Homo sapiens: one gene and its partners. The protein of the gene in region 1 purifies or fractionates together with the protein of each later gene. This does not show direct contact. Each region holds a gene or a part of one and is shown in the gene's direction. Other genes may lie near its edges.

Evidence for each region.
Region 2: the proteins of CDYL (region 1) and ZNF644 purify together in Homo sapiens (affinity purification with mass spectrometry; 2 studies listed by BioGRID and IntAct, with this or other methods). This does not show direct contact.
Region 3: the proteins of CDYL (region 1) and MIER1 purify together in Homo sapiens (co-immunoprecipitation; 4 studies listed by BioGRID and IntAct, with this or other methods). This does not show direct contact.

What each region holds. Positions count from the first base shown.
Region 1 is NC_000006.12:4,771,400-4,779,499, forward strand, and holds the start of CDYL (chromodomain Y-like protein), read left to right. Parts: upstream 1-5,004; 5' UTR 5,005-5,384; coding exon 5,385-5,408; intron 5,409-8,100.
Region 2 is NC_000001.11:91,012,008-91,019,114, reverse strand, and holds part of ZNF644 (zinc finger protein 644), read left to right. Parts: intron 1-7,107.
Region 3 is NC_000001.11:66,927,912-66,935,018, forward strand, and holds part of MIER1 (mesoderm induction early response protein 1), read left to right. Parts: intron 1-975; exon of another isoform or gene 976-978; coding exon of another isoform or gene 979-1,052; intron 1,053-2,344; exon of another isoform or gene 2,345-2,480; coding exon of another isoform or gene 2,481-2,489; intron 2,490-7,107. UniProt on the Homo sapiens protein: Transcriptional repressor regulating the expression of a number of genes including SP1 target genes. Probably functions through recruitment of HDAC1 a histone deacetylase involved in chromatin silencing.

The sequences.
Region 1 (8,100 bases):
CACCACGTCCAGCTGAGTGTTTGCACTTTGAACAAGTCCCAAGGTGATGCCGTTGCTGCTAGTTTGGGGAACCACACTTTGAGAACTTCTACACTAGACAATACTAGTGATTGAAAAAAAATCAAGCCCCACTAAGCGCCTCCAAGTGCTGGTCTGGCCCCAATCTTCCAACTCATTTACACTTTGCTTTAGATTCAACATCCACCTGCTCCTGGGATAATTCTGGGTTCCCCCACTTCTGGTGGGTCTTGTGTTTCTATTTTCCTTACCAGTCAAAATGTCCACACTCATCTCTTGCCTAGTTGTTCTCTCTCTCTCTTTCTCTCTCTGTCTAGAAATGGAAAGGTAAAGACGATACTGGGATGGTCTGACTTGAGAGACAAATGCAATTAATCATCACAATAATTCAAGGGAAAGTTAAACAGTACTTGCTGTTTTTTTCCAGGGATCCAAAATGAGTTAGTTACTGCCTTGGCATAAAGTCAACCAAAATTATGGGAATACCTGTGCCTATTTCCTCTTTATGATTTTTGGTCTTTTTGCTTTCCAAAAATGGGGTAATGTATAAAATTATCAATGAAAAACTTCCTTGCTCTTGCTCATTACTTTAATCAAAAAAAGTTCAACAAGTACATATTACAAGGATTCTCTTGGTAGAACACCATTAGCTAAATAGAAAAAGGAACCGTACTTAAACACTAAATCTAGTTGAAAAAGCAAATGATCCTTAATTGTAGATTGATGAGCTCCGGCCAGTGATGGTATCACAGCCTAAGATGAAATTGGTGAAATCAAATGTTAAGAGGTCTCAGAATTGGCATCACGAGGGCAAAGAGATGAAACAACTAGTGATATCTGGCCAAGGAGCAGCAGTGTGGCAGCTGGCTACTGGCTTCTATATGAAAGAGAGAAATGGTACCTACCTGGGACCAACATGGAGGGCGGCAGGGAGAGGCTGCCCCTCGAAATGGGGAAACTGACTGTTTGGGCAGGGAAGGCAACAGTGACTGAAAAAAGGAATCAGCTGTTATTGGTTGACCAGAAAAAGGTACTGGTATCCACTCTAAGCTTTTAGGGAAGGAAGAACTGGTTGGCTCCCAGTTCAGACAAGGCCCCTAACATCTGAATTAATCTTATAAATGGTTCTGTATGCTTCTTTCTTTTGGGTCTCAGGTTTAAAATGTTCTTTCTTTTGAGTGGGTGATTGAGATGGAAATTCCACCAAGTTTTCTGGAGTAGATACTCTATGACAAGAACGGCATTTAATTTCCCTTCAGCCACTGTGGGTTTAAAACCAACAAACTTAGGTCGCATCTTCATAAAAATCACAATTAAATTTTGGGTTATGGAGGAGGTAACCAGGATAGAATATGCTTTGGGGGTACAAAACTGTTGAAGGGAATCATTATCAGTAGCTTTTCACAGCTACCCAACCATAAAACGCCTTTGGCTCTGAGAATAGTAGTAGCTAGATTTTGGCTTCTTTTGTTTTTTTCTGTCCCATCCCCCATCTCCCCTTGGATGCCTTTGGATTCAAATGTAGATGAAATGCAGATTCTTGGGAGAAAGGAAGACATGCCTGGTTTGGCTGGTGATTGGGAAAAGAGGAGGATCTCAGATTTCAGGTTTTAGTTATCATTCTCCCGAGATGGGAAGAGGCTGTGATTCTTGATCTGAAGAGTCTTATCGTCGGTAGAACTTGCCATCGATGATCAATTGTTTGGATTTGAGGAGGAGAGAATTGAATTATGTTGGCCTACAACAACGGGAGCAGGTCAGGTAAGAATCGTTTATTGCTGGTAGACGTGTCTTTTAATCATGTGTGTATATCGTCTCTCTTGTTGACCACTTCTCTAATCTTTTAAGAGTCATATGTCTTACTAGTGCATGGTATTGTGCTGTATGTATTTTTGCTGCAATCTTCCCGGTGTGCTTAGGGGATGTGATTTCACTTTTATTCTTAAGCCACTGAGAAAATAATAGCACCCACACACGTGGTCATGGAAACTACAGAACTTCACTGTTTCATAAAAGGTGGTGGAAATTCCAAGTCATTAAATAATCTTGGGCATATTTACTTCTGCTATGAGTGCTGGTAAAATGTTTATATAAAAAAGTGACGGAGGAAAGCAAAGTTTGCTTAAAAGTAAGACAAATTGAACGAATGAGGTTAAAATATATATGTATATATAAGCAAAATAGCATTCCATAAATCAGTGAGTTTTAAATGGAGGGCAGATGAAAGGAACAAAGTGGACAATTGAGAACTTCCTCAATTTCTCAGTCGCTAGGTGGATACCCATCTCCTTCGCCAGTGGAAGCCAACTGTCAGAGTGGAGAGGTGGTTGGAACTTAGGAGTATGGCTCACTCCTGCTTTGTTTTAGAGGCTACTGGTGGTTACTCTTAATGTTGTAGACTAAGGATAGCAGCATAAACATTCCAGATTGTCAAGATTGAAAAGCTACGTAAATTGACAAAGGTCTATGTAAATTGACATTTTTGAGTTGCCTTTTTGAGGCTATAATTCTTCCCCTTTTTGTTTCCACAATGGGGAAAATCGCCTTACTAGCTCAATATCTGGATATGTTTGTTGTGGATGTCTATGTTCCTTTCTTTCCCTCTCCTGGGCAACAATGGCAGTTTTGGAGACTCCTTGGAGACCACAGTACCATTACGCACATGGTGGAGCCCCTTGTGAATGCCTAAGCTTGTGGATGTTCTGAAGGGGGCAATAATTGGAGTAATGGTCATGGCGAGAAGTGCTTGTATTTGTATTGGTCCATCATTGCATAATAGGCTTATATGTTATATGTATCTATTTCCTATTGAGGATCTCTTTTTTACAGTTGATTTTTCTTGAGGGATTTTAAACTATCACCTGCCAGTATTTGAGCGCTTGCCGAAGTGTGCACTCAATGCTTTGAGATTTCCCAAATGTATAAAATCCTAGTCCTTGCCTTCAAGGAACTTACAACTTTTGTTGATAAATTGGTAAACCTAGAGAGAAGGCAACAATGAAATGCAGCATATAATGGAAATGCTAAGTGAGAGGAAAGAGGCGCTGTTTGGAGGAGGGAGAGGGAATTGGCTGGGCCATCAGGGAAAGAGGCAGAGCTTGAGGCGCCTTGACCAGTTGATGAAGTGGTGGCTTTAATTTGCGATTCTTGTGCAAACATTTGATAATGGGAATTGGATGTGTAGGTATTGGGCTTTCTCGTGGACACTGAAATTCCATTCATTGAACAACACCTTATTTCCTGTATAGAGAATGGTGCTAGGGGCCAGCGTCAAATTTGAAGATGAAGTCTGACTGAAGGTCATCGTTTGGAGTTGGGGTGGGGTGAAGAGTAGACAAACCTTAAAATACAGAGACGAGTGCTGCAGTGAGCACGCGTGAGTGCTTAGGCAGCGCTTGAAGAGGGAGTTACCGATTTGGCCCTGGAAGTCAGGAAGGCTATCCTTTTAAGGTGATCCCTGAGCTGGGAGTTTGTTTCAAACGGTGGGGACCGCAGGTAGAAGCACCGCTTAAGGGGAACGGCGATTCGACTCGCAGTGACTTAAGGGTTGGCGTGGTGCTTGTTCCTGGGCGTGGGGAGGACAGGAAACCGCGGGGTCTGTGAGACGCCCCGTGGTTGTTGAAACGCTGTTGGGGGGCACAAACGAATAGGGCTTTAGGAAGAAAACTGGTGGGAGGAGCCTTGTGGCTCCAAGGTAGGTTAGGAACTGGAGCGAGATGGAGCACGGAGGAGTGAGGCGGCCCGAAGGATGCCCGGGGAGACATGGAGGAACTGGCGAGGGCTTCCCGATGCAGGGCCTGGGGGAGAGGGTGAACTAATGCCTCTGCAGTGCCCCGTGGGGAAGTTCCGCATACTCGGCCAGAGTGATCGGAGTTGGCGGCTGTCTGGGGGAGTTGGGTCAGGAAGCCCCTTCTTTCGCCACCGATGGGGCACGTCCAGGGCCCGGCAGGTGTGCCCTGGCAGTAGATCTTCCCTGGGAAGTGGAGCGCGGGCCAGCCCTCGCTGTTCTGAGCGAGGGCCTGTCGTGTAGTCCACACCGTTCCGCGAAAGGAACCACCATTGACAGCCTCGTTCGATTAGAACCCGGACCTCCCTGGAATCCAGACTCGGTCCCTTCCCAGCTGCGCTTCGGAGGAGGCGGACGCTCCGAGAGGAACCCAGAGGCCTGGCGTGGGGGGAGCTGCGGGCAGAGCGGAGGCAGCCGCGCCCTCGCGCCGCCCTCCGCCGCGCCCGGCTCCCGCCCCCCGGATCCCACCCCCGGCCTGCCGCGGAGCCAGCGTGCCAGCCGGAGCTCGCCGGGCCACCCCGCGGGGCGCGCGGCCCGGGCTCCGGGTCTTGGCGGCGGCCGGTGGGGCGGGCATGGGGTGGGGTGGGTGCTCCACCTGGCCACGCCGCCGGCCCTTCGCGGGCTGGCCCGGCCCCGGACGGGCGGGCGCACGGAGGCCGCCTCTTGGGCTCCTCCTGGAGGGAGGCGCGCGGTAGACGGCGCGGCCGCTGCCGTCGGGGCGGTGGGCTCCAGACGCGGGCCGGCTCGCTCGCATGGTTCCCTGCCCCATCTCGGGTCCGTCGCTGCCCGTCCTGGTGTGCACAACCGCGCTGCGCCTCGAACCTCGAGGTCCAGGTCCCGCCTGCCCTGGGCCGGGCCGCAAGCGCCCACGTCGAGGCGGGCTGGGGGGCGGTGCCGCGGGCCAGGCCGACCCCGCAAGCGGGACTGGGGAAGTCGGAGCCCCGCCCACCACCCCGCCCCCCGCGCTCGCGGCCCCGCCCCCGACTGCCCCGCTCCTCCCCTTCCTGCCGGCTCGCTCCCGGCCCCGCCGGCCGCCCGCCTCGGCCCCGAGCGGAGCCCACTGCTCCCCTCGGCTGCCCCGCCCCGCCGCCGCCCCGCCCCTCCCGCGCGGGCGGCCCGAAAACCCGGAGCGCGGGAGCGCGGCTCCGCAGGGCCGGGCGGCCGCACTGGGCATGCTCAGTAGCCGGGGCAGGTTTTTTGGTCGCAAGTAGGAAGCTTTCTGCACTACACCGGAGAGGGGAGCCGCGATCCGGCCGCGCCGCCCGCACGCCGCCGCGCCCGCCCCAGCCCGCCCGGCCCCGCGGCGGGGCGCGATGAGCCCGAGCGCGAGCCGGCCCGCCGGGGAGTGAGCGCGGGGCGCCCAGGGCGCGTTGCGTAGCTGCTCCTGCGCACAACCCCGCCGCGCCGCCGGCCCGCACTGGCCGCGGAGTGCAAGAGGCTCGTCCGTGCCCAGCGCCCGGCCGGCCGCGGGAGCAGGAAGCGCAGGCCACGCAGGACCCAACTGAAACAAAGTGTCGGCCGCCCGGCGCCGGCGCCCGCCCCGACCCTGCCCCTCCCGCCCGCAACTCCGCCGCCCACCATGGCTTCCGAGGAGCTGTACGAGGTACCTCCCCTCCCCCCGGCCTCGGGCCGCCCCCCGCCCGCCGCCCCTCCCGGCCCGGCCGCGCCGCCCGACGGCCCCGCTCGCCGCCCGCGCCCGCCGCGTCCCCTCCCCCGCCGCGGCCGCAGTTTGCTGGACGGGAAATGTGTGTGAGGGGAGCCCGAGCCTCCGTTCCGAGGGGCCCCGGCCGGGGGGTCCTGAAGTTGCCGGGCGTGGGGTGGGGGGGGGGGTCCCAGCCGTGGGGAAGTGGTGCTGACACAAGTGACTTGCTCGGACTGAGCTCAAAGTGCTCTTGGCGTGGGTCGTGGAAGTGGTGCCTCCGTTGCCGCTCGGCGGGGACCGTGGGCGGTACGGGGGGTGGGGTGTGGGGGGGTTTCTGGATCATTTGATAAAGCATTTGGGAGAGGGTTTTGCCCCTGGTCGGGGGGTGGCGGGGAGAAGACCGGTGCAAACGCTTTCGACTTTGCTGTTCGCCAAAGCGATGCAAAATCTCGCACCGAAAATGCTAAACGTTGACCACATGCTTTAATTAGGTTAGCATTGTGGCCAGAGCCAGGAAATTTAAATTTAACGCTGATACACCGTCATTCATTTGCGCCGCAGCGTTGCAAATGAGAAGGGCATAGCCAGAACTGTAAGTTCTGGTCGATGGGTTTAAACCAGCTTCAAGTTTGAGAGTTACCAATTTGGATCTTTAGACATGTTTTGTATGTCTCCATGTAACTTCTTTTGACGTATTTCAAAGTAGACTTCCTGGGAGTACAGAAGTTTGGAAGGCTTTCTGTTCTTCTGGATAAATGATTCTCTTGTTTCACATGTATTTATAAATAAGTTCCTAAGAGACTTAAAACTTGCGAAGACTCTCTAGACTCACCTTTATGATGCGTTTAGGGACCTGGGTGTTGAGGGACTTAAGGAAGCATCTGTAACAAGTAGAGCCCTGTGGCCCCAGGGATCCTTTCAGTTGTCTTCTCTTATGGGCGTATTATTGCTGTTGGCATAGAATAGAGCTTTGTTGTCTGCGATGTTAGTCTTCTAGCAACTTTTTTGTTGCTTTTTAAGAGCAAGTGTTTGCAGAAGTTCTCAGGAGGAAGCTGCCATCTGTAGAATTAAGGGTAAGGTTGTTGCTTCTCCTTACATTGTATGTGGTCAGTATACCTTAGCTGGTACTGAAAATGTTCCATTCTTTTCAACCATTTTACACATTAGCTGTGCCCCGCTGTATTCAGGATACTATTTTAGGTCATTTGGGGATGTAAAAGAAGAAAAATCTCCCTGTTCTCAGGAGCTTTCCTTCTAGGAAGGAAAGTGTTGTGTGTCTGGAAGACACAGAAATGGAGGCTAGGATGTTTGAGGTTGAGGTCTTCCAGGTGAAGTCTGTACAGGGGGAAGTACATAGCATGAGGGTATGGGGGATTTTAGTTTCTACATTAGATCATTCTTTGGTTGTTTAGTCATGAGTGTTCACTCTTGGCATTTGCTTTTATGAGTATGATTACATAATCAGTTCCATCAGTGGATGAGAGTAGCACCTTATACGTAAGTTGTATCCTATGTGTGTAAGAATGATTCTGAAGACAGCACATTTCCCATTAGTATATTATGAACTAAGTTTAGTTCCTTCTGTGCTTATTCTATATCTTCAGGTTTCTGTTCCTAACAGAAGTTATTAATGAGTAACATTTTGTACTAAGTTTGTGTTCATTTAACGTTTATTGAATGCTTGCCATATGGAGGTTTCATGGGGAAATACTGAGGTGTGAGAATGGTTCATGCTTTCAAGGAGTGTCTGTTGGGGAGGAAGTAAGTATATTGCAAATAAATGATACACCTGCACAATTGAACTTTTGATTCTGAGTTTTATTTTAGTTTTGGAAAAAAAGGTATTATAGAAGTATAGTTCAGGTGATAAATTTAAGTATGTGTAGTAAATATGTAGTGGTCAGTATCTTTCAAGGCAAAATTTGTAACTTTTCTTTTACTTGTAGGCAACACTGTGACTATGTTACCATTGAAAGTTGACATTGAAAGTTTTGCATGGCAGTTGAGAGCCTAGATTTGGAGTCAGACAACCCAGTTAGTGACTTCCAACTCTATCACCTTGGGTAAATTAGCCTTGAAAGCTCAGTTTCCTCATCTGTGAAATTGGGATCAGTGTTTCCCTTATAGAGCTATGAAGTTTACATGAGAACATATGTAAAGCCCACCCTAAAATTCCCATGGCAAGCACCCAGTAAGTGATGATGATTGTATGGTAACTGGCTTAAAATGCCTCCCTGAAACCTGGTTTTGTTTCTAAAGGTATAGAGTTGTATTGTTTTCATAAAGGCAGTATTATCTGTAGGGCAGAAGTGATACGCAATTGTAAATGAACGCGATAGTCTGACAAGGCTGGGAAAGACACTAAGATGATGTTTTGTGGCCAAGTCAAGGGTTGTTAGTTGCCTTGTTTTGTCCAGTTCTGCCTAAACTGAAATAGAAGTTTTCTGTTTGGCCTCAGGCTCCACAAATCTAGAGGGATATATTGACAGGAGGAAATGTGAAGTCTTGCTTCTTTGAACTCACATGGTCTGGTAGGAGGACAGGTCTGCAGTAACTGGGAACTTGGGTGAGTTACCCAACTGCTGAGCCTTGGTTTTCTCGCCTAAAAGAAATGTCTCCAATACTTAGCATGGAACCTGGTATGTAGTAATAG
Region 2 (7,107 bases), on another chromosome or scaffold:
GTCAGATTTAGCAAAAAGTTAAATTGTTTTAAGGTTTTAAAAGTTTTTATGGGTCATATAAGGTGCTTTTAAATTACTGATTTTTGTTAGTTGATAAGCTGTTTTATAATTTTCAACATTATGTGAGTGGATTTACTTACACTTTCATTTTGTGAAAATTAGAGTCACTTTCAGGTTATTTGTAGTTATAAAGTGGTCTGTCACCTGCCAACCTTAAACATTTTCCAGTTTTAGTTTGTCATTCAAGTTATAAGAGTGTTTTGGTTGAATTGAGACTGTTAATGGGTAGCAGGAGGAGAAAAGAAAGTTTCAAAGAGAATAGAAGTGGTGGGATATCTGCAATCTAGAGAAAGGTCAGGTCCATTTTTTTTCTGTCATCCTAAATATTGTTTTTTAGTGTTACTTATTTAGACCATTTTCTCAGGATGTGATTCTGGAAGGAAAAGTGAATCTTATTCTTGGGAAGGCTTTTCAGTCAGGTCTTAAGACAATTGTAGCTTGCAGCAAATGGAGAAATTGGCATGTTGAGTTATCTAACCCTGATTTTATAGAGCACTTGTTTTAACCATTTTTTAAACTGTTTTCTAAATGTTTTAAATTAGTAACCTTGTAAAATAAAACGAGAATGAAGAGTGGATACTGTAATACTATGGATACATATTCAAATGAGCTTTTATTTACACTTATTAATCTTTCTGGTAGAGAGAATGTCTATTTCGTATATGGAGAATCTGTAAATATTGAGTAAAGTTGTCAGGTATAGCATTGACTGAAGCAGTTCTAGAAGTGGTGTTTTTGATTCAGGTTTATTAGAGGGAAATAAATAGCTGCTGTTAATAGTGCAAGCCGTTTACACCATTGAGTTTTGGGAGATTTGAGAATCATGGAACTGATGCTAGCACTAGCTCACCCTGCTGGTTGGCTAAAAGATTTCTCCTCTTCCCCTTAAGAAACAAACATGAAGATCACAGGAGACCCAGAGGGTAGTAAGACTCTAAATTAAATTCTGTCTTTCTTCAGGGAGAGGAAGTTCCCATGAAAAAGGTGTTTTCTTGTCTCTAAGGCCTTAGTTGCTGCATTATAATTTTTTTTGCAGATCTGCCAAGTTGAACCATGGAGTTACTATCCTTTCTTTTTCTTTCTTTTTGGTTGGGGGACGGAGTCTCGGTCTGTTTCCCAGGCGCGGGTGCAGTGGTGCAATCTTGGCTCACTGCAACCTCTGCCTCTCAGGTTCAAGTGATTCTCCTGTCTCAGCCTCTCAAGTAGCTGGGATTACGGGCGCCGGCCACCACACCTGGCTAATGTTTGTATTTTTAGTAGAGATGGGGTTTCATCATGTTGGCCAGGCTGGTCTCGAACTCCTGACCTCAGGTGATTCACCCGCCTTGGCCTCCCAAAGTGCTGGGATTACAGGCGTGAGCCACCGCACCTGGCAGTAGTTACTATCCTTTTTGAACTTCCTGGGAACTCTTATGTGATTATGGAAAGTTAGTATATTTTTATTCTTTTAATTTCAAGATAAGAAATCCTTTGACAATTGAGAGATGTTAGGAAGAAAAACAGCCCTGTGAGAGTAACTTTCCAGGAGGAAAAAAGCAGAGGATTTCAAGAGTAAGAGGAGGAGGAGCCTGCCAGGGCAGAAGTAGCAGCAGTGCACACTTCTCTTGGTTGGGAGAAAGTGAGACTGGATTAAGATTAGCGTTTCTGGGAGATTTTCTTTCCCCTCTCCTACTAATCTTGGCCCTACCTCTTCTGTCTGCTAGCTGTGGTCTTCCCATTTCATTTGGAATCCTTTGAACTGAGATTTTGTAAGTAAAAATAAAGATAAATGATTTGTTCCTTGAAGCTTAATTCTGTTAGCCTAGATTTTGGTAGAATTGAAGCTGGGTTAGAGTGATGAAGGCAGATTTTATGTGTTAAGCCTTTTGGTATGTGTATCTTTTTTTTAAGTTGAAAATACAGCTTTTAAAATACTTTATATAGGCCGGGTGTGGAGGCTCACACCTGTAATCCCAGCACTTTGGGAGGCCAAGGTGGGTGGATCACTTGAGGTCAGGAGTTTGAGACCAGCCTGGTCAACATGATGAAACCCTGTCTCTACCAAAAATACAAAAATTAGCTGGGCATGGTGGCACGTGCCTGTAGTCCCAGCTACTTGGGAGGCCGAGGCAGGAGAATCACTTGAACCCAGGAGGCAGAGGCTTCAGTGAGCAGAGATGCCGTGCCACTGCACTCTAGCCTGGGTGACAGAGTGAGACCCTGTCTCAAATAAAAAAGACTTTGTTCAAACTCTAGAAACGTAAGTATATTTTGAGCCAAATAGACAACTGAAAATTAAAAATACCTAATAAAGTGTTGATTAAAATTCTTTACACTTTACAAAGCATGTTTACCTGTAGTCTATCAATTATTTTATCTAATTTTTTGAAAAGATTAATATTTTACTTAAAAGTATCTCTTTCATTAGTTTCTTGAGGAAGATATTAAATACAGTCATGTGCAGCATAATGATGTTCTTTGGTCAATAGTGGACTGCATTTACGATGGTGGTCCCATAAGATTGTAATACTGTATTTTTACTGTATTTTATGTTCTATGTTTAGATACACAAATACTAAACAGTTATGTTACAGTTGTGTGTGGTATTCAGTACAATAACATGCTTTACAGGAGCATGTTGTAGCCTAGGAACAATAGGCTATACCAAGTAGCCTAGGTGTGTAAGTAGGCTCTACCATCTAGGTTTGTTTGAGTACACTTTGTGATGTTTGCACAGTGACCAAATTGCCTAAGAATGCATCTCTCAGAATGTACATCCATGCTTAAGTGATGTATGACTGTAAAACTAGTACTTTCAGAGCACCATTTATTGGGGAGGAGAGGGGTAATTCCCAATTTATTGTTGGTTTGTGAAGGTGGGTAAAAGGCTTCACAGAGTTGGAATTAATTGCCTTTTGTTTGCTACTGACTCACTAAATACTTTACACACAGACACACACACACATAGAATCACAATTGCAATTGTAATTATGCATATATAAAGAGGCAGGATATGATAAAGTTTGAAAGTGTAAGCCTTGAAGTAAAATTGACAGGGTTCAGATTTAGCTGTGTGAGCACTAGGCAAGTGGAATTAGTAATTACCATCTTCAAAGAGGTTTAGGGTTGATATTACATAATTCATGTAAAGTCCTTAGCTTTCTGGCATACAATGCTGAGTAAAGTAAGTGTTACCTGTTAGAGTAATAATAGTTATTATTACCATTGTTTAATTATTCTTTCTACATTAACTTGAGATTTTCACCTGTGAGTGATTTGCAGTTGTATACTTTTGCTAATGTCCCATTTTAAGCCATGCCGATAAAGACAAGGTTGTTATAGAGGAAGTGAGAGGTAGGCATCAAAGTGTGCCTTCTCTGATTCTAGCAGCAGAATCTTATAACCAGGTTAAATATTTCAGGAATGCATTCCCAGCACTGTCAGCAGATGAGTAGATACACTTGGGAATGAGTACATTTTAATGAAGTTATTTCCCAGCCAGTGCATTGGTTTGTCTTTGTTATAACATGCTGAATTTCTTCACTCTCCTTTCAATTTTTGACTGTGAGGCCATGTGGTGACTATTAGTAGAGAGAAGAAGGTGAGTGGCTATGCGTATTTGTAATGTACGTATAAACCCAAGATGAGAGTGAGGAGTGGCTGGTAGGTAGCTAGATTGAGGCGGGTGGAATATAATCTTTTCATTGGATAGTCTGAGTTGGGAATTTCCCAAACAGCATTTCCTTTTGCTCTTTTCCTCTCCACACTTTGTTTTGTATATGTCTGTGCTGGTATGGTGTTAAAGTTATCAGTTCCCCCTCTTTAATTTTCTTTCTACCACCAACCTCCTCCTAGCACAAACACGGATTTTAAGCTTATAAGCAAATTTGTCAAAGACAGCTAGTAAAAATAATTTTAGGTTCATTTGAGGAGGGGTACTAGTATGAAATTGTAAGTTTTTCATTTATGCTTGAAAAATACAGCAATTTGGAAAGTGAGGGAGGGGAAGTCACCCATAATCTTATTACCATTATATAATTATTAGTATTAAAGACAGATGACGTTAATTAAGCATCTACTATATTCTTTTAATAATCCTGTGATGTATATATTCCCACTTTACATGTGAGGAAACACATCCACTTAATAATGGAGTAGCCAAGTTTGAACCTAGGTATATCTTGAGAAGGTCTAGAGAGGAGACCTTTCTGTTCTACCTTCCTGTTCTTCTTACATATATATCCTTTTACCTAGTTGTTACACAATTTGTAAGTTTCATCTCCTAGTTTTAAAACTTAGCATTATAAAAACATTTTTCTCCCCCCCCTTATTTCAAGTGGTGTCGTATTGCTCTCATTGTCTATTCATACCACCATATAAAGGCTCTTTGTCTTGGCTGCTGGACATTGGTACAATGATGTTGACCAAAATGGATGCTGCCCTTTACTGAGTGACTAAGATGAAAAAAATCAGGCTTAATCAGAACTAATACTTTATGGGATTTGGATTGCTACAGGTTTAATCATGCTATCTATCCTTGCTGGTGGGACATTTGACTTAGAATTGTATATAAGTAAAATATAGATGAAAAATTGTATAATTTATAGCTATCTGAAAACAACTTTTTTTTAATATTTGAACACTTTGAAATGCCTTACACTTCCTTGTTAAAAATCTTAAAGGGATATTAAAATTAAATGGCACTTAATTACTATTAGTAATTCCTAATATAATATTTAATTCATAAAAGAAAAAAGCTTAATGTTGAATTCTGGCACTCATCGGGAAGATGACATTATATGTTAAGAGATAATTTGTGGGGCATAGTAACTATAGTTAATATTGCATACTTGAAAGTTGCTAGGAGAGTACATTTTAAGTGTTCACACCACAAAATATAACTATGTGAGGTAATGCATGTGTTAATTAGCTAGATTTAACCATTGCATAATTTATATGTATTTCAAAATGTGTTGTACACCATAAATATATACAATTTGTATTTATCAGTTTAAGAAGAAGAAGAAGAAAAAGGTAATTTGTGGGCATTTATAAATAGATTGTATAGGTCAGCACTGCCCAATAGAAATATAAGTTGAGCCACAAATGCAATTTTAGATTTTCTATAGCCACATCAAAAAATAAAATAAATAGGTGAAATTTTATTAATGGATTTTTATTTAACCCAGTATCTAAATACTATTATTTCATCATATAAACATGATTGAACTATTTTACATTTTTTCTTTTTTTAACCATGTTAAGTCTTCAAAATCTGTTAGTATTACATACTTAAAGCACATCTCAATTCAGACTAGCCAGAGTTCAGGTATTCAGTAGCCACATGAAGTTACTGTATTGGACAGTGCAATTACAGATAGTAAGTCCTATGGGGTATAGGGAAAGAATAACATAGAAATTGAACTGAACCGTAAAGGATAGCTGAGAACAGAAAATGCTTGAGAAGAATATTCCCATAAAGAAGTGATAGGAATTAAAACAGCAAATACAGTTTGATACCAGGTAATAGAGTGGCTTGAATCCAGTTTAGGGAATTTGGTTTGGGTGTGTATATGTGTGTGTGTGTGTGTATGTGTGTGTGTGTGTGTGTGTGTGTGTGTGTGAGAGAGAGATTGGAAATATATATTGGAGGGTGCCTAATTCGTGTCTCATACATGAGCACTTGATAAATACTGAATTAACTGGGTGCATTGGCTCATGCCTGTAGTCCCAGCACTATGGGAGGCTGAGGTCGGCAGATCGCCTGAGGTCAGGAGTTTGAGACCAGCTTGGCCAATATGATGAAATATCCCGTCTCTACTGAAAATACAAAAATTAGCTGGGCATGGTGGTGTGCACCTATAATGCCACCTACTTGGGAGGCTGAGGCGGGAGAATTGCTTAAACATGAGAGGCGGAGGTTGCAGTAAGCCAAGATCATGCCACTGCATCCCCACCTGGGCGACAGAGTGAGACTCAGTCTCCAAAAAACAAAAGAAAAAAGATAAATATTGAATTAATATTTAGAGAGAATTAATATGACACTACAGAAAATGCTGGAAAAAACATCCTAACAAAGCCTAGTCGATCTTCAAAAGGGAAAGTGTTTCATTTAGGGAATATTGATGTTCTGTGATTAACAATATGATGGAGATTGATAAAGAAGGATGAGAATTGAGAAAAGGTTTTTAGATTTAGCTATTAATTGGTTACTTGTTTTTAAGTATTTTTTTTAGGTATAACATACAGTGAAGTGCACAAATCTTAAGTACAACTCAGTGAATTTATACATATAAGTATACCTAGGTAACTCCCAGGTAGTGGGAGGTACTGGGTTACACCTGGGGAGAAGAGGATGTAAAAAAAGCACAGACATGAGAATTGTGGAATGCAAGCATTTTCCGTGATTAGAGCCTATTTTAAATGAAATACCCAGATAGAGATGTAGAATATTTTTCTTCACTGATTAAAGGTGCCTTGTGCTCCCTCCTATTAATTTCTCCCTACAGAAGTAACCACTATTTTAACCTCTAACCTCTATCACCATAAATTAGTTTTTGCTTGTTTCTTTTTCTTTTCCTTCCTTTTTTTTTCTTTTGAGACAGGGTCTCAGTCTGTCACCCTAGCTGGAGTGCATTGGCGCAATCTCAGCTCACTGCAGCCTTCACCTCCCAGGCTCAAGCGATCCTCCTCCTTCAGCTTCCTGAGTACCTGGAACTACAGGTGCATGCCATCATGCCTGGCTGATTTTTTTTTTTTTTCTTTCGGTAGTAGAGATAGGGTTTTACCATGTTGCCCGGGCTGGAGTTTTTGTTTCTAAACTTCTTATGGCATATTTGTCCTCCCTCCCAAGGGTAGTGAGAATTGATGCTTGAATCCATCTCTCTTTTCTTCTGTCCTTGTTTGGCATTGTTATGAATTGGGAGGTAAATCAGGTGATATTTGGTACTATGGCCCTTTTTTCCCCCCAGTGACAAAATCAGAGAGGTGCTTCTTAGTGTTCATTAATAGTAATCCTTTAGAGGTTAGTTTTATGACTTGATATTTTGTTTAGAATGCAGAGATTTG
Region 3 (7,107 bases), on another chromosome or scaffold:
AATACTGAAGAGGGTAAGTAAGCGTTTTGAGAAAGACTTTTCATTCCGTAAGGTGGCTCCTGAAAATTTTACAGTTAGGTGTATCACTAAAATAAAATAATAGTGGAAGGATACTGAATTCAGTGGTAATGTGTTACCTATGAATTGCAGTATTAGAGCTGTTTCTTTTTTATAATATCTGAACCTAAAAAACCCACTGAATCCACATTTATAAAAAGGGGAAGGGGAAAAATGTAGAGAGTTTTTTTCCCTCAATAATAATAATACCATTTAAAACTAGTAATATTGATACACAATATTAATAAACTTAAAGAGTTATTTAACAGTAAGATAGATACCCATTCAGAAATGTTTCAGACTTCCATTTTCCTGACAAGTTTAGGATTCATTCAGTAGGTTAATAGACTATGATCCCCTGCTCTTTATCATAGTTGGGATTTCTGTTGGTAGTTTAACTGAAGAATCAAAGATTCAGTGTACTTAAGCAAGTTATTTCTGTACCTTGTATTGTAACACTTTTAATTTTCCTTTGGTAGCCAAATTTCATAAATTAGCTTTCATATGTTAATGGAAAACCCTCCTTCATCTCCATGGTATAAAGCCTGAGTTTGTACCTCTAGGCCCCTAATTGTGTCTGTACCCACCTCAGGTCCATGTATATCCATTGTTCTTTGCCTTCAGCTCTTTTCATTAAGTGTATTGATTGAAAACTATTTGGATATGAACTGACACTTTTAAAAAGTCATTTTTATTTCAAGTCCAGAGGATTGACATAATTCAACAGGGTAACTATTAGAAACTATATACCTCTGCTAAAATATTTATTCCCCCAAGGAATCCTGAAAAACACTTTTATATAAGTTTTCTAAAAAATAAAATGAAAATACTGTACAGTACAGTTAATGGTAAAAATTGTTTGTAGATTTGGGAACCTTAAAGTTTTCCTTTCTCTTCTTTCCCTTGCTTTTCTTTCAGTAGAAAATGTGCATCAGATGTTTATGTTTAATTGGTTTACAGACTGTCTGTGGACTCTTTTCCTGTCAAATTACCAGGTAATGTCCTTTCACTTAGCAGCTACTTCATATATCTGTAAATGCAGTTTATTCATGCACAGATTATTATTGGACATAACAGTTTCAAATTAACATTGAATCTTTGGAAATAGGAAAATGCTTGATAGAGTCTAGAATTTTAAGGGAATATAAATAATTTAATAGCCTCCCCTATATTGCATTATAAGTTAAGTATTAACTTTAAGAAAAATTGTATATGTACACATTTATGCAATGTAGTATTGGTTCACATTATTTGGAAGGAATGAATAATTCTCGTATTTAAATGGTTGATTTTGGTAGCCACTTTTGAAACTGCATTAAGAGGAACCCTTGAAGATTAGGAAAAAAATCCCAGTCTTTTGAAATAAAGACTTTCAAACTGGTTTAGTAAAATATGTTAGTGACTGTTTTAATGTCACCTTTGTGTTATTCAGTATGTGCCTTAGTATAATGGAAGTGAAACATGTTAGTTACTTTGAAATCATTGGTTCTGGCCATCATCAGCATTGGCATCACGGCCAATTGGCAGCTGTAGGCCAATACATTAAAATAAACTTTCAAGTTACAGGCATTTCAGGCATTGCAAATAAGTAGGTTCTCCCTCCATGCTACTAAATAGATGATATCCATAAAACAGTCAATTTTCAGTATTTTAAATTTTGTCTAGTTGTGCAAAATTCAGTACATAACTGTGTTGCTACCGGCATGACAGAAGTGTGTGAGAAAACGCAAATGACATGAGGATGGCGGACTGCCTATCATAACCCCTTCCATTAATTTTTGCTCTGACCTCTCTAGAGATTTGGGGATATAGAATTTTACATTTCCTGTCGGGAATCTACTGATGGAGAAATATTTGTCAAGGCATAACCGCTTTCAAAGCACAGTTCTTGCCGCCGTTGCATCACAGCAACATCCGTTTTTCAGCAAATGCATTTCAAAAACGACCTACATGTAAAATATTACGTATTTTTCCTCTGCTGTGTCAATGCTGGATGTGACTCCTTTGGCACTGTTCCTTGACCTCTCTGATCCGTAGACAACCCCCTCCGCCTGGAGTGGCGGATCAGCTGGAGCCAGCGAAGCGCCCCGCGCGGTTGCCCACCTCCTCCCACACCCACCTTGACTCCGCCCCCTCCGCTCTTCCCGGGGAGGGCTGGCCGCGGGGCCGCGCGCGCGCCCCTGCTCCGGCGCGTGCTCGCTGGTCTTTTCCCTCCAGTCCAGCCCAGCCGGGGCGCCGCGAGGGGGCGGAGTGGGGTGTGGTGGGCGCGCTCGGGCGGCTCCTGCGCGTTCCCGCCGAGGCAGTGGCGGCGGGAGCGGCAGAGACGGCAGCGGCCGGAGTCCCGTTGCTGAGTCTCACATCCGGGTTCTGGCCGTGACCCAGCTGCGGCCGCCGCGGAGATGTGACCCGGCAGTACGGCAAATATGGCGGAGGTAAGGGAGCGAGCTCCCCCTCCCTGTCCCGGAGCCGGGCGCCCCCGGCCCTGGGCCGGGGAGGAGTGGAGTGGGCCTGGCCAGGAGAGGCCCGGCCCTGCTGGCGCCGCTGCCCACCTGTTGTCCGGAACAGGCCATTCTCTGGGCGGGAGCTTCGCCTGGAACTTAGTTGGGATGGGTCCGGGGGTAGGAGGAAGCGGAGGCGTACTTGGACTTCGGGGGCAGTTTGAAGGGTAGTGCAGCGTAGTAGTGCGGTGCGAGGGGGAGGGGGCGCCCGCCGGGGAAGGGGTGCCTGTGGCGCAACTTCGCCGGCCGGTGCTAGGGGCCAGGAGAGAAGCTGCTGCTTCCTCTTGCGAAGTTTTTTCCCTTCCTAACCGAGATGCTGTTGCGCCCTTCCGCGTCACCCCCATCCATTTGCGACTGACATCCAGTCTGTGTTAGTGGGGAAAACGTAAGGCTGACGGCCTTTGATTAACTCTGTAATTTTCATGATCGTGGTAAAATGAGAGTGGATAAATTAATCTGGCCAGCCGCAATCCAGCCCTCCAGGTTGGGGGGAGTCTGCCCATTTATCCAGACAGTTCCATCTCCCGCTCCCCAAGGTACAACCTCTGAGCTGCTTTTCCACCTCCCCCCACCACCTTCACTTTCCAGGCTTCCCCCCACCCCCTTTCCAAATCAAGGCTACCTATTCTTGTCTTCTTTCTCTTCTAATTTTTCTTTCATTGGAGAAGCTTTTTCTTGTTTCTTTTTGCTCGTTTTATAGTAAACAAGTTCCTAAAGCCCCTTTTTTTGATTTTACATATTTGGGCCGCAGTTGGCGGGCATACAACTGCTGTTGATTTATTAATCGGAACTAAGTATACGCTACTGGAACTTTAAATAACTGGAAGTTTAAAAAATGTTTAAAATATCTGAAGTTTTGTGGGATTTGTTTTGTTTCCGTTTTTCCTTACCCGTGGAAGAATTTCAGTATTCTTTATTCCTGAGAGTTCGAGATGATGTATTTGGATTTTTTTTATGACTCCTTTGAAATAAGCCACTGTAAATTTTGATTGATAAGGCATTTCTCTTGTTTGAATTGCCATTTTCATGGTTTCACAGGCACCCCAAAACAGATTTAGGAAGGAGGGTGAGATTTTGCTGTAGCAGACAGGACTGTTTGCTGCGAGTATTCTTTTTAAAACATTCAATATCTCTAATTTACAACTAAATTTAGATCTTAGATTTATTTTCATTTCTTTTGCTCTTGGTGGTTAAAGAATTGTATTTCCAGGCACATGAATTGGAGAACGTAGTACTTTCTGTTTCCCCAAAATGTGACTGCGTTTGTTCCAGTAGACTGAGAATCGGTACCTGGATTTTAGTCCTGGTGAGGTTCTTATTCTTAAGTGTTTGTTTCCTTCATGTTTAAGGAGTTGTGTGTAGCTGGATTTATACATTTTGTCAGTTAGTGTCTTCAGTGGACCCCTTTCAGTGAATATCGGGTAAGCAGCAATGTGCTACATAGGTAATGTGGTTTCTTCTTTCATGGTGTTGCTCAGGATGGTTTGAGCTTTGAGGTGTGTAGTCATATACTAAGGCAAGATATTACTGAAGGAAAATAGCTTATACAGAGAAATTTAAGTTAAAAAACTTAAATTTAAAATTTCTGTGTTTTTAAAAAATAAATTTTATTGCCGAGGGAACTAAAAAATCTAATATGTAAAAGAAATTATGTTAACTTTTTTGTTTTAAAAATTAAAGATGGTTGCGTTATTGTAAGATAAAGGAAAAAAATATTTTGATTCACTAATCATTTCCTAATATTTTCTAATGTATGTTTTAGTTTTCTTAAATATTTTATCAGTTGGAGAATGGAATGTTTTGTGGGAACGCATGGATTGTTCAACTGCAAGAAGGAAAGAACTGGAATTTTGTTTTTATTTGGTTTTTAGTGTTTATTTAATGACCTGGTATCTTTAAACAATTTATCTTCTATATTCTTCAGTTACTTGTAGATAGTTTCATGTATAGTGAATTGGGGAAGAGTTAGAGGAACTTTCGTGATCTGTGTCCTACAAAAAAATCTAAGACAGGTGAAGAAGTGAAAAGTACAATTGATTTATAGTTTTCCTGGCCTCAATACTTGAATAATTATGACGATTTTTGAGACCAGTGGTTTTAAACAATTAGACAAAGGAGAAATGCTTGGTTGGCTTTTACTTTGAGCTCTCAGTAGATTCATTCTTTATGAAGCCAATATAAAAGCATGTGATTAAATAATCCAGATGCTGAATTATTGTGCTTTTGATCAAATAAATCTGAGGATTTAAGGATAGCTTGTGAAGTAACAGTAAGTGCAAAGCAACAGTATATATCTATTTGTTAAATCTGAGGGGGAAAACAGGTTATTGAAGAAGTATGTCTCCAGAGAAAAATGTAGGTATTATGCTTCTGGGCTTTTAAAAAAAAAAATTGATGCTTCCTACAAGAGCATGACCCTGACCATGTTTTTCCAGAAAAATATTTAATTCTTGAATAGAAAGTGCTTTAGATGAGAATAGGATATACTAATTTTTTATATTTGATCTGATTATCTTAGTCCATAATAGGAAGTATATATTGGTTCTTCAGTTGTGATAACATTAAAGCCGTATTTAATGTACTTAGAATAAATAGCATATGCTCCCTTGCTTAATACTTTTTGGCAATATTTCTCATTGCTTATTATCCCTTAAAATTATTTACCAACCTTCTAAAAGGACGCTCTCCTAGTCACACTTGAAGGAAATTACAGGATAGTTGCAGTTTTACTAACTGCAAAAATAAGAGGAAAATGAGAGAAAAAATGAGAGGAAGAAATAGTTAATCCTTTGGGTTTTATAAGGAATGTACTAGGGACCTTTGGGAACGAACAATTTGTCTTGTATTTTAGCGTTTGTAAACACGTAAGGGACTTTCTTCTCAAGGAAAAAAATCCATGGACAATTCAAGACCTGTCTTTTCACCTAGGCCACATTTCTGTGATATAAAGAGAAAATTAATGGATTTGCTTCTTTCTATTTAAGTATTTTAGTACTTTCAAAGAGGGTATATAATCTGTTTATTCACTTTCACACCTATCCATTTCTCTTTAAAATGGACTCCTTGCTTAGTATTTTTTGAGTGTATTTGGATTTTTTTAACGAAGGATTATGTTAAATGTTACTTATGAAAACATTAATTTCTACTCTAAGCAAAATGTGTTTCACTGCAGTGAATTTAAGCTTCAAATAATTCTCGACACTAATAATGAATTTTTTTTCATGTTTATACTTCAGAGCTATTAAGATTTTAAAAGTAGTCAAGATCACCAGTGCGTGAGAGTCCTAAAAATCTTAATTCATTGGCAGTTAAGAGTTAGGGTACTTTAATAGGTGGGAAAGGTTTGGTGGGAGAAACAAGTGAATTACTTTAAGATAATTCTGGTAAGTGAGACTAACCAGTTTTCTAAATAATTCAGAAATAAAACACTGCCATTGAAGCTTAAGCATGTCTTTATGAAAAGTAATCAGCTATCTAGAAATGCCTGCCTGGCTTGATGTTCATTCAAAATTCATTGCAGTGATTAAATTGTTCAAGTACCAGTCATTGCTTGGGGCTTGTTCTGTTTGTCTTATTCTGTGGCTTAGAACAATAACTTATTATGTAGGTATGAAATTCATGAAGTAGCACCCCAAAAAATTGTTTTTGCAAATTGAGATTTTTTTAACAGTCCTAGATTTAAAAAAATAAATTTAAACATATCCCATGCATTTAGCTGCATACTCCTTAGTAGTGTTAGGTTTCTAGAGCAATTTATAATAAAAGTAAAGTTAGGTCTTGAAGAAATCTAAATCTTTTGATCATAGAGAAAATGAAAGTGAGCAGAGAGTTTACGTAGTTTGTCCTAGGTCGTGCAATTCATCTATGGCACAGTTTAGACTGGAACCCAGCCTTCTGTATTCCTAGATTCCTAGTGCTTATTTTCTTTTTCTTTCTTTCTTTTTTTTTTTTTTTTGAGACAGGGTCTCTCTCTGTTGCCCAGGCTGGAGTGCAGTGGCGCAAATCATAGCTCACTACAACCTCAAACTCCTGGGCTCAGGTGATCAATCCTTCCCTCAGAGCCTCTCAAGTAGCTGGGACTATAGGCATGTGCCATCATGCCCGGCTTTTTTTTTTTTTTGTGGAGACAGGGTCTCGATATGTTGATCAGACTGGTCTCGAGCTTCTGGCCTTAAGTGATCCTCCTGTCTTGTGCTGGGATTATAGGCGTGTGCCACTGTTCCCAGTCCTTATTTTCTATGATATCATTTTACTTCTGAATTATTAATACTGTAGTAAATTGCTAATTTTAATTTCAGTACATTCTTAACCTTTTTATACCCCAGAATTCCTGAGAGTAATAACAAAGTTAAGTAACTTAATTTTATTGGAGGAGAGGGATGGTGAGCCAGCCCTTGGCACGGTAACCATCTTTCACCCTAAAGTAGGACCCCTCTTTCCAGGCTTCTATCCCCATCTCCATTGCTGTGAGAATCTCTGACTTAGAGTCTACATAACTAAGTAGATGACGGCAATACTTAAAAGAAATGGTGGTAGAATTGTTTTGAGGGGA